Homo sapiens: one gene and its partner. The protein of the gene in region 1 interacts with the protein of each later gene in a biochemical or structural test. Each region holds a gene or a part of one and is shown on either strand. Other genes may lie near its edges.

Region 1 (5,158 bases):
AGGCCCAGAGGGGTCATTTGCCCAAATTACACAGCAAATGAGTGGCAGCACTGGATTTTTTTAAAATTAAAAAATTGGCTGGGCACAGTGGCTCATGCCTGTAATCCCAGCACTTTGGGAGGCTGAGGCGGGTGAATCACCGGAGGTCGGGAGTTCAGGACCAGCCTGACCAATGTGGAGAAACCCCATCTCTACTAAAAACACAAAATTAGCCAGGCATGGTGGCGCACGCCTGCAATCCCAGCTACTTGGGAGGGCTGAGGCAGGCAAATCGCTTGAACCTGGGAAGCAGAGGTTGCGGTGAGCCAAGATCGCGCCATTGTACTCCAGCCTGGGCAACAACAGCAAAACTCCGTCTCAAAAAAAAAAAAAAAATTTAAAAATTGTCTTTTGTTATTACAAAGTAGGATAAGTAGACCAATATAAACAAAAAATAATAAAATACCGTATCCCTTCTACCCAAAAGTTACCATTGTGAGGGCTTATCCTATCTTTCTAGGCATATATGCACAAACACACATTTTGGAGATTTTTTTAAAAACAAATCTAGGTATTTATTTAACACTTAAAAGAGTACTTACTCTGTGCCAGGAACTATTCTAAGCACTTTGCATATATTAATTCATTTAATTCTCACATCAGCTCTCTTTGCTCTCCAAGTCAATACATTTTCATCTAGAGCTGGGATTCTAAGCCAGACTTCATTAACCACCCACATACCCCCTTAAAACCACAATGCTAGATTACCTCTCAATGAGTGTAGGAAATGGATGTGATGAAAGACAGAAAAAAGCATGAGGCCTAAATGTGTGAATGGCTTGAGGAATGAATGCTCTGACTGAAGAAAGAATGCCTGAGATCCGCACACTCCTTCCACTGGCCTGTAGAGGCAGCAGCCGTTGCCCAAATGAGGCAGACGAACCTAGCTTTGAATCTCAGCTCTAGCTGATTCACTGGGTGGCACTGGACAAATCACTCCTGCCACCTGAGCTTGAGCGTCTTCATCTGAGATAGGAATAGCAGTCCCTACACTGAGGAGGTATTAAAGCTAGGAGGAGCCAGGCTAGGCCTTCTGTCAACATTGATGCCCGGTGTCTCTGGCCACAGAAACAGGCCTCAGTGGCTGCAGAGAACAGCGTCATCTGCAGCTTCCTGCACTACATGGAGAAGGGTGGCAAAGGATGGCACAAGGCATGGTTCGTGGTCCCTGAAAATGAACCCTTGGTGCTGTATATCTACGGAGCCCCTCAGGTATGCATCCTACTCCTTCGGGTCCTTTCAGCCACCTGGCAAAGCCAGATCCAGTCCTTGACCTCTCCTTGGCCTTGGAAGATAAGGTGAGCCTTGGAAGATAAGGTGAGCCTATCTCTAAGAGGAAATCAGAACCCCAACCCTTGAGAGACAAAGACTGGCTAGAGACAAGGAGTGGTTGTGGTATGTAGGGAAAACCAGGATGAGTTGTGGGCCTGGCTTCCTGGAAGGAGTAGAGATGGGGAACTGCTAGGTCCAATTTGGAGTGGGTAAGAGTATGCAGATGGGACCGAGCGCAGTGGCTCACGCCTGTAATCCCAGCACTCTGAGAGGCCGAGGCAGGTGGCTCACCTGAGATCAGGAGTTCAAGACCAGCCTGGCCAACATGGTGAAACCCCGTCTCTACTAAAAATACAAAAATTAGCCTGGCGTGGTGACGTGTGCCTGTAGTCCCAGCTACTCAGGAAGCTGAGGCAGGAGAATTGCTTGAACCTGGGAGGTAGAGGTTGCAGTGAGCCAAGTTCATGCCACTGCACTCCAGCCTGGGCAACAGGGCAAGACTCTGTCTCAAAAAAAAAAAAAAAAAAAAGTATGCAGATAGGGGCAATAGCATAGACAAAGGCCTGAAAACATTATTTGGTATGCTAAAGAGACTAGCCCAGCAGTTTTGTGAGAAGAGGCGGGGGTGGGGGGAGACAGGTATTTAAACCAGCCTGCATTTTAGCCCCAGTTCTGACATGTTCCTGTTGATAACACTGGAGCCACGGAAGGTTCCTGAGTAGGGGAGTTCCTGAGTAGGGGACTGAAGACAGAGCATATGCAAAACCAGTTAGAAGCTGGGGCGGGGGAAAGGTCTAGCCCCAAGGTGGCCCCAGCTCTGTCCCTCCTCCCGCCAGGATGTGAAAGCCCAGCGCAGCCTGCCCCTCATTGGCTTCGAGGTGGGACCGCCCGAGGCAGGGGAGCGGCCTGACAGAAGGCATGTCTTCAAGATCACCCAGAGCCACCTCAGCTGGTACTTCAGCCCTGAGACAGAGGAACTACAGCGACGCTGGATGGCTGTGCTTGGCCGGGCGGGCCGAGGGGACACGTTCTGCCCGGGGCCCACACTGTCTGAGGACAGGGAGATGGAGGAGGCACCGGTGGCTGCTTTAGGAGCCACTGCTGAACCCCCCGAATCCCCCCAGACCCGAGACAAGACCTAGAGGGTTTGGGACAAACTGGGAGCCCCCACCCCACACTCTAGTTGCCCATGTCTGATTGGGGGCTCTAGCCCCTTCCCTCCCAGCTCAGTCAATACTTGAACTCCCATCACGGGCACTTTCAATCCCGAATGCTGGGTCTTGGGTTTTTTAATTCATCTTTTCACAAAACGTGGGCTTTTAAAAAATATATTCCTACAGTGATGTCAATTTTTATTAATCCCTGTCCCCAGGGAGGGTGGGAGCCGTTGCCAGTCCTACCTGAATTAGGTCGTTTTTCTCCCTCATCCCTCAATACCCTACCACAGATCCTGCCTCCACCCAGTTCCCCACAAAGCACCAGAGGTAGGAGACCTGGATTCAAGTGCCAGCTCTGCCACTGACCCTGGGGCCCCGACCCAGCCCTGCCTCCTCAGCCAGTGTCTTCACACGTACAACTCCACGTGGGGTGGCAACTAGACCTCTCCTGCCTCTCCCATGGCTTACAGCTTCTACCCGGCCCCAAGGCTACCCAGTATTTTATCGTCCAGACCCATGGCAGGGCCAGCGGGCAGGACAGGGAAACAGGGGGGAGGACAATGGATACTCAGTTTTTTGTGTTTTTTTGTGTGTTTTTTTTTTTTTAAGAAAAATACAGTTTATTTCAGGCTTACAGTAACTTTCATAGCACTGCTGTGCTCCGTTCGTTCATCTGTTTGGTTGTCCAAAGTACCAGGCTGCTAGGGTGGGCCCAGAAACTGCTCCCTTGTAAACTCTGAAGCTGAGCTCCCAGAAGGCTGATTCTAAGGCTACTACTCACAGGTCAAGCCACAGATTAAGCAGTAAGGTATTATTTATTAAGATCTTAAGCCTCACCCCTGAACTCAAATGGGATGGGATAAGGAGTAAGGAAAGAGGTTAGAGGAGACAGAAAACAAAGCCCAGCTCTTCCAAGCTCACCACCTAGCCAAGGTCTTCGAATTCCTGAGGGAACCCAGGACTGGAGGCTGGGCTGAAGGAAGGCAGCATTCCTGGGAGGTTCCAAGTTCTGGGCAGGGGTACAGAGCTGTTGCGTGTGTGTGGGGTGGGGTAAGGGAGAGGCTCCAGAGCTACTTTCATTCACATTTTCAACTATTCTCTCTTCCACTTGCATGTTCATCTCACCATTCCTGACCCAGCCAGCCCCCTATCACTGAGTACTGCTGCTGCTGCTGATCCTCTCCTCCCCAAATCCACCTGCCCACTGTCCACCGGCATCTAGCTCCTCCTCCAGCCACACCCACACTCACTCATCCCCTTCCTCACAATGACCGCACCCAAAAGACACTGTACTGGGGAACCCGGCTTCGTCACTCGGATGTTAACTAAAGGCCCAGGGGAATATGCTGGAAAAGGTCCCCCCACCCCCAAGACCAAGGACCCTAGGTTTTCCTTGCCCTGGAGGGAGCCAGACAGAGGAACAGGGGAGAGGGTGGAGATGGGGTAACCAGTCCACAGGTCTGCAATCCTCAAAAAAAAAACCCCTACAGACAACTCTTAGAACAGCAAATAAGGGCCCAAAGCCATTTCCAATCATCCCCACTCATTTTTTTCTCCGGACAATGGTCCAGCCATCTTCCACTATATCCTCTTCCTTAATAGTCTGAGCGTCTGGATCAGAGGGTTCAGGCTGGGGGCAGACCCCATCTGTAGCAGCCCCATCATTCGTAGCTGTGACCTGGAGGGGAGATTTAAAAGAGAGCTGAATACACTGACCACTGGAGACCCAGGCTCTGCTCCAGCTTTTCCAGGATTGGCTGTGTAACTTTAGGAAAGTTCCCTGCCCTCTCTGGATAATACTACTACCACCAACCACCACCATCCCCTTATCACTTCCCTGTGAATCTAGCTGCTCTTCCAGAAAATTGAAAACATCTGTATCCCCCAACCCAGGGGGCACCCACTTCACCTCCATCTCTTCCACACTGTCCACATCATCTTCATCCTCATCAGTCTCTCTAGCTGTCTTAAGTGCAGTGGCTGTGACCTTGCATTTTCTCTGAGTGATGCAGGAGGCCATCTCCCTCAGAGCAGCCCCATCACCCCTCTGGAAGTGGTGGAACATGGTCTGCAGTTGCTGGCTCACCTACCAAGAAAATATTCAACCAGTTTGGATTTTCCAGATATCTACTATACAAACAGCACGTGTTTGAAGCAACAGTGGGGAGTAGGTTGGATTTTTCCAGAAGAGAACAGAGCTCTTTCCTCCCCAAGGAATTAACCAATGAAGCAACCACATATGAAGGGCTCAAATGAAGGCCTAAAGCATCAAAAGAGAGCCTAACTAGCAGGGAATCCTCTAGAACTGGGCTTTGAAAGAAATAAGATGTAAAAGGGAAGGTAATCTTATTGGGGAGCAATGGTAACCAGAGCGGGGGTGAAAATGGACCTGGACTGGCCTGACCTGCCCTTGGGATGGGGCTGAGGAACAGGCCTGGATGGGAATGATGTATAGAAATAAAGAAAAGGCAGGGTTTGGAAAGGCTACACTTTTTCCTCTAGGCAACAGAGTCATAGTCAAGAGTCTTGGCCCAAAACAGACAGCTGGGGAGAAGAAAGACTACAGGTAGGGAGACTGCAGTTGTGCCCGTGATAAGCTCACCTGGGGCAGACTCCCGTCTTCCACAACTGTATCAAACTCGTTGGTCAACAGCTCTCCAAGGAAGTCTTCCACCTCATCTAGCTCCAAG
Region 2 (6,922 bases), on another chromosome or scaffold:
TCCTTTTATGCTCTGAAGCTATCCAAGTCATACATCCACTATTCAAGTTCCCCCTCCAGGGGTATAAACACCTCAGTTTAGGTCACTTCCCAATGTGCTCCTCACTCAACTAATAGCTTTTCCTCATTCTCCTAATGTTTACCCATTTTTAGGATGCCAACTTAAACTTGATGTGGTTAAATCCAAAATTCAGATGCCTAATCTCCATTTCACACAGCTATGCGAATTGTGAGGCCAACCATACGACCACAATTAAAGTTTAATTTACATAAATAGCTAGGCGAGGTGGCTCAAGCCTGTAATCCCAGCACTTTGGGAGGCCAAGGCTGGTGGATTAACTGAGGTCAGAAGTTCAAGACCAGCCTGGACAACATAGTGAAACCCCATCTCTACCAAAAATACAAAAATTAACCAGGCATGGTGGCAGACACCTGTAATCCCAGCTACTCAAGAAGCTGAGGCAGGAGAATCACTTGAACCCGGGAGACGGAGGTTGCAGTGAGCTGAGATCACGCCACTGCAATTCAGCTTGGGCGACAAAGACTCCGTCTCAAAAAAAAAAAAAAAAAAAAGAAAAAAATTAAATTACATGAATAAGCTTTCTTCCCCATGAAAATAATGTGTGTCACTTCACACTTGGTCTAACACACAAAATCCCCACCTTATCTGGCACAGATACACTTAACATGCAATATTAAGTACAATTTCCATTTTATTTTTCTCCAGAGAATAGCCTGTCTTCAGTCTTTAAGAACTCAGCTCCTTACATGGGCTTTGGTGGGGGACGTGGGGCAGCACCCTGAAAGACAAAGAAACAAAAGAGTAAATTAAAACCCATGGATCCAAGACTCCCTTCCCCCAAAGAACTTGACCACCATCCTCTCACAAACTGATGTATTCAGGCTACAAATGCATGGGAAGCTGATAGAGGTGGAGGGAGAACACTACTCTGCATCCTAAAAACCAATTCTGATTCTAACACTGCTTTGCAGTGTCTCTAAGCATGTTCAGGTGTGGGTCTCACCTGCCTTACAGCTTAACCTGAGGCACAGACCTTAATTTGATACCCCCTGCACCACAGGAGGAAGCAACTTTTTTTTTTTTTTAAGAGACAAGGTCTCACTTTTGCCCTGGCTGGAGCGCAAGTGGTATAATCATAGCTCACTGCAACCTCAAACTCCTGGGCTCAAGTGATCCTCCTGCCTCAGCCTCTCGAGCAGCCAGACTATAGGTTCACACTATCATGCTTGGCTTCCTTCTCAATATTTTTTGAAGAGATGGGGTCTTGAACTGCTGGTTTCTAGCAATCTTCTTGTCCCAGCCTCCCAAAGTGTTGAGGTTACAGGTATAGGACACCCTGACCCTCCAGGATGAAATTTTAACCATCACTCCCCTGGCTTCCATTCTCCTTTTAAAATACTCACCGCAGGTCTAAATCGGGGTGGGGGTGTTCGGTCCTTGCGGGCTTCACGAGATCGATTCCTGACTACTTTGCTGTGAATTGCACAACTCACACAGTAATGTAGCTTCACATACAGCTTGGGAAGCACATAGGCTAAGGAATAGAAAATAGAGTTATACTGGTATTATATACCTACCTTGCTTTTTTGTTACATGAATGAAGAGCACCTTACATGTTTACGTCAATTAAAACTAAACCTATTTAAATGCCTGTCGGGCACATAAAAGCACCCCCAAAGCACCTGTTCAGCCCAATACCTGAGCACATATGTATAACCCTCAGTTTTACAAGTGAATTAACATCCCACGTGAGTTCATCTTGACACCGCAAGGACCAGACTGACATTCTAAATGCAATAAACCAATAATCCAGTTCCTTCTACACCTACACCCGCCCTAATGCCTACCCTGAACCTTGCTCTTTCTATAAAAGGAAAAAAACAAAGCGACGTTCTTATTGCTCCAAACATCATCCTTGCACACCAAACTAGACGGCCTCCATTCTCGAAACGTTGAAGACATTCTTCCTCACCTGTATATTTTCACAAATATTCAAATAATCAATAGCACAAGAATTGTCAAATTTACCAAGTTTCTAGTTTTTGCAATCTCATAACCGAAACAGGCAAACCTTTACCTCAGAGTAAAGGCTGTGCACTCTATCACAAAGTCACCCTCTGCCCAGAAAAGAATCAAAACGGCAAACAAGAGAATTCTCTTCTACCAGTAACAACCTTAAATACGTGGAAATTGCCTGAGAGGCTCCAAAGAACAGAGCCTCCAAAAGGGCGAAGTTGGGCGAAGGCTTTAAGATACTGGGATCCTCACACAGTTCGCGCCGGTGACCCACTTACCATCGAAGACGCTCGCTTCAGAAATGTCCCTGACTGCTGCGGCCTCCACTATGTTTCGAATGACGAATTTCTTAATGGCCTTGTCCTTGGGCACGCATCGGGCACAGTTAGTGCAGCGAATAGGCTGCACGTGGCCGCGGCCCTTTTTGGCACGACCATTGTTCCTTCTTTTCTTTGTCTGCGACAGGATGGGAAAACTGTTAGGAAAACGGCGCAACTCACCCAGCCTCAGTCCCTTTCCGGCCACAAGCCGCACCGGCAGCCTCCAGGAAGGCGCCGCTCGGATCTCCTGTTTCTCCGCAAATCCCGCCGACCCCCAGAGCAAATGAAATGTACACTCGGTCCACCCCTCAGCCGTGCTCCAGGCTCTCACTTCCCCACAATCCCAGAGTCTGCACCCGAACCCCCACCCTCACCACGCAAGAAGACTCACCATCTTGGAGGCACGGACCGGAGAGAGGAGACGGTGCCTGGCAGGGCCCTCCTATATAGCATGAGATCCCTACGCGGACACCGGGAGAATCCTTAGGAGACGGGCTTCAAGAACGGCAACTCACTTTACTCAAATATTCCTTTACATTCAGCATTTCTGCTGAAATCTAGGGTGGAAATGCGTTCCTAGTGTTTATTTATCCATGGAACAAAGTGCACATGGGACTATTTAGCCGGATGGCGGAAGAAAATCGAGGTTATGTGTCTCCCAGCAAGCCTTGCGCCGCGCCGACTCGGAAGCAATTCTGGACGATGCAGTTTTCCGGTATACGCGACGCTAGGCGTGAAAGTTGCCAGACGCTGGACCACAAGGCGCACTCGTTATTAGAGGCCAGAGAGGGACAGATGCTTGGTGGGAATTGTAGTGCGAAGCCAAGAGGCTCCCCCCTCCCCCCCTTCCCCCCTGCCCCAAGTGCTTAGACCGAAGGCGGCGCTGCGCCACCGGGGGACGCCCTGGGCTCATTTCTCTGACAGTCCTTCTACTAGGTAGGTGTAGGATTACGAAGAGGAAGGCCTGAGAGGAAACAAGCATTTTGTGAATCCCTCCTTCCAATATGGAGAAAATCCCACAATGAAGTGCATTGAGGCTGGGGCTATTTCTCATTCATCTTTTTATCTCTGGCACAGTGCCTGGCCCTGTGGTAAGCGTCTTTATAAATATTAACTCATTTAACTTTGAGCAAGCCTATAGGTAGCTACTATTATTATCCTCACTTTAAAGATTGAAGAATTTAGCCCGGCCTGGTGGTGGGCGCCTGTAATCCCAGGTACTCAGGAGGCTAAGACAGGAGAATCTTGAACCTGGGAGGCGGAGTTTCCAGTGAGCCGAGATCGCGCCACTGCACTCTAGCCTGGGTAAAAAGATCGAAACTCTGTCTCAAAAATAAATAAATCAATTAAAAAAAAAGATTGAAGAACTGACGTGCAGTAGGTATTCTGGCTCCGCTGTACTATGCTGTATGTCACCTAACAAATGGATGGAGGAATAGCCTGGACTAATGACTTAAACGTTTTTCACCCAGATTCATAGCACGAATACATTTTACATTGGTACCCAGTACACACACAAACACGATTACATGCACATGCAAAACTGAAACACAAGCTTTATGAAACGATACTTACCCTTGTCATAGGTGTGCTGGTATGTTCTATTCTTTATTTTTACTTAATCTTTCTGTTCTCTATTTTAATAAATGCTGATCAAAAACCACGAAAATTATTTCACCACTCATTAGTGAATCTGACCCCTAATTGAAAGATTATGTGTAAGCTCCATTTACCTCTGAAGAGCCATCGGAAAGACTTAAGCCTTAGGCTGGGTGCAGTGGCTCACGCCTGTAATCCCAACACTTTGGGAGGCCAAGGCAGGCGGATCACCTGAGGTCAGGAGTTCAAGACCAGCCTAGTCAACATAGTGACACCCCACCTCTACTAAAAATATAAAAATTAGGCCTGGTGGCGCACACCTGTAATCCCAGCTACTCGGGAGACTGAGACAGGAGAATTGCTTGCACCCGGGAGGCAGAAGTTGCAGTGAGCTGAGATTGGGCTACTGTGCTACAGTCTGGGCAATAGAGCGAAACTCTGTCTCAAAAAAAAAAAAAAAAAAAGCAAGCAAGCTTCAGCCTGGCAGGAATGGCTGTCCACAGCCAACCACCCAGTTGTCTCCAAAGTTGAAGACACTAGGGTGGCAAGGGGACCTCCTAGCATTCAGACCCAGGATGGTACAGATGGAAACCATTGTTCATTTATGACTCACTCTAGAGTTTGAACACACCAGATTCACCTTCCCTCCAGCAACCCATCATGGTTTCTTTTAACCTTTAACCCACTTCTTGGGGCTAAAATCTGTTTTCTTACTTTCTTTTTTCTTTTCCTTTCTTTTTTTATTTTTATTTTTGAGACAGACTCTTGCTCTGTCACCCAGGCTGGAGTGCAGTGGTGCCATCTCAGCTCACAGCAACCTCTGCCTCCCGGGTTCAAGCGATTCTTCTGCCTCAGCCTCCCGAGTAGGTGGGACTACAGGTGGGCGCCACCATGCCCAGCTAATTTTTGTATTTTTAGTAGAGACAGGGTTTCACCATGTTGGCTGGGACAGTCCCGATCTCTTGACCTCGTGATCCATCCACCTCAGCCTCCCAAAGTGCTGGGATTATAGGTGTGAGCCACTGCACCCGGCCCCAGCTAATTTTTGTATTTTTAGTAGAGATAGGGTTTCGCCATGTTGCCCAGGCTGGTCTCGAACTCCTGAGCTCAGGATATCCACCCGACTCGGCCTCCCAAAGTGCTAGGATTACAGGCGTGAGCCACTGTGCCCAGACTTTTTTTTTTTTTTTTCAGATGGAGTCTTGCTCTGTTGCCTAGGCTGGAGTGCAGTGGTGCGATCTTGGCTCACTGCAACCTCCGCCTCCTGGGTTCAAGCGATTCTTCTGCCTCAGCCTCCCAAGTAGCTGGCACTACAGGCACGTACCACCATGCCCGGCTAATTTTTTGTATTTTAGTAGAGACGGAGTTTCACCATGTTGGCCACATGGTCTTGATCTCCTGACCTCGTGATCCGCCTGCCTCAGCCTCCCAGAGTGCCAGGATTACAGGCATGAGCCACTGTGCCCAGCGCTTTTTTTTCTTTTTTAAGATGGGTCTGGAGGCTGCAGTGGCATGATCACAGTTCAGTGCAGGCTTGACCTCCTGGGCTCAAGTGATCCTGCCGTCTCAGCTTTCCGAGTAGCTGGGACTACAGGCATGCACCACCATGCCTAGCTAATTTTAAAATTTCTTGTAGAGATGGTGTTGCCCTGTGTTGCTGAGGCTGTTCTCAAACTCCTAGGCTCAAGTGATCCTCCCAAGTAGCTGGGAGGACAGGTGTCCTCCACCACTTCCAGCTTTCCTGTCTGTTTTGACTTTGAATTTGCCAGTTTCAGTGGGACATGGAAAATAATAGACTCTAGATAGGAGTGTCTCTAATTTTCACTTCACTGTAATCTTGTGGAAAACAGAAGGCAGACATTACTATATGGAATAGCAATGAGGTAGATGGAAGAGAACATAAAAAAGTTCAGAGTGAAGAGAACAGAAAATAGTTACTATTTAAGACAGAAACAAATTTATGTTCCTACTTTGGATTTTTCTAGCTTAGGGGTTTCACTGGCTGCATTCCCTGGCATAAAGCGATGAGCACATGCTTTGGATCACACACCCCTGGGTTCAAATTCTGGTTCTGTCACTTACTGGCTGATGAGCCTTGGATAAGGTATTTATTCTCTCTTGGGCTTTTATTTTTTTACCAATAATTGTGATCATCCTTTTGTAGGTGTTTCTACAATTCAATGAGTACTTAGCATTTATGAGATGCTCAAGCAGTGGTAGACCCTATGATTGTCATCATTCGCATTATTTCACCCTGGGCATAGAATGTGTTTTGTGCACAGTAGGTACTCAACAAATGTTTGATTAATTTCTACTTTGGGTAGACAGGCAAGTCAGACTTTCTCTCCTATCCTGAAGGCACTCCTTCCTGGTAGGAAAATCTCCTCCATTTCCCAGTCTAGGCTGAAAATTCTTCGTTTTTGTTTACCTCCTAAACTGTTCAGTAGTTGGTATAACATACTGCAAGGAGGACCCCTCCCTCTTAGTAGAAAAGCAAGGCAAAGGAAGTCTGCAAAAACAACCAGAGGTGTTAAATTACTCATGTTTATTTATAACAGACTTTCAGCCAGTACAGTACAAAACTTACAGTAGTATATCTCCGTTACACAAATATTTACTTACAATATATTACATATACAAAATGCTTTGCAATAAGTCTCAAAAGCTAGTTTAACTCCCCTTGAGAAAGGAGAAAAACTCTTTAAAAAAGGGGGGGAGGGGAATCAGAAGAAGAGAGGAGGAGGTGAAGGGGTAAAGGTCAAAAGAGACACCAAACATAGGCTACAAAGGAAACCCTAGGAGAGAGGGAGAAGAGAGGTGGTATTGCACTTGCTTCTGTGTTTATTTTTTCTTTTTGTTCTTCATAACTTCTGATTAAAAATATATATATATATGTATATATATATATTATGTACACAAGGAAAGAAGCTGCCAGAAGTATTACAAAATCCTATCTGCAGCTTGGA

What was found. The genes of interacting proteins can lie anywhere in the genome.
Region 2: the proteins of TSR2 (region 1) and RPS26 form a complex in vitro, tested with the Homo sapiens proteins (one study listed by BioGRID).

Annotation. Positions count from the first base shown.
Region 1 is NC_000023.11:54,443,404-54,448,561, reverse strand, and holds the end of TSR2 (pre-rRNA-processing protein TSR2 homolog), read right to left. Parts: coding exon 5,071-5,158; intron 4,555-5,070; coding exon 4,378-4,554; intron 4,147-4,377; coding exon 4,012-4,146; 3' UTR 2,454-4,011; coding exon of another isoform or gene 2,148-2,453; 3' UTR 1,252-2,147; coding exon of another isoform or gene 1,108-1,251; 3' UTR 530-1,107; downstream 1-529. Other genes in the region: FGD1 (FYVE, RhoGEF and PH domain-containing protein 1), read left to right, coding at 1,108-1,251, 2,148-2,453. UniProt on the Homo sapiens protein: May be involved in 20S pre-rRNA processing.
Region 2 is NC_000012.12:56,037,996-56,044,917, reverse strand, and holds RPS26 (small ribosomal subunit protein eS26), read right to left. Parts: upstream 3,001-6,922; 5' UTR 2,752-3,000; coding exon 2,749-2,751; intron 2,494-2,748; coding exon 2,316-2,493; intron 1,556-2,315; coding exon 1,425-1,555; intron 800-1,424; coding exon 764-799; 3' UTR 221-763; downstream 1-220.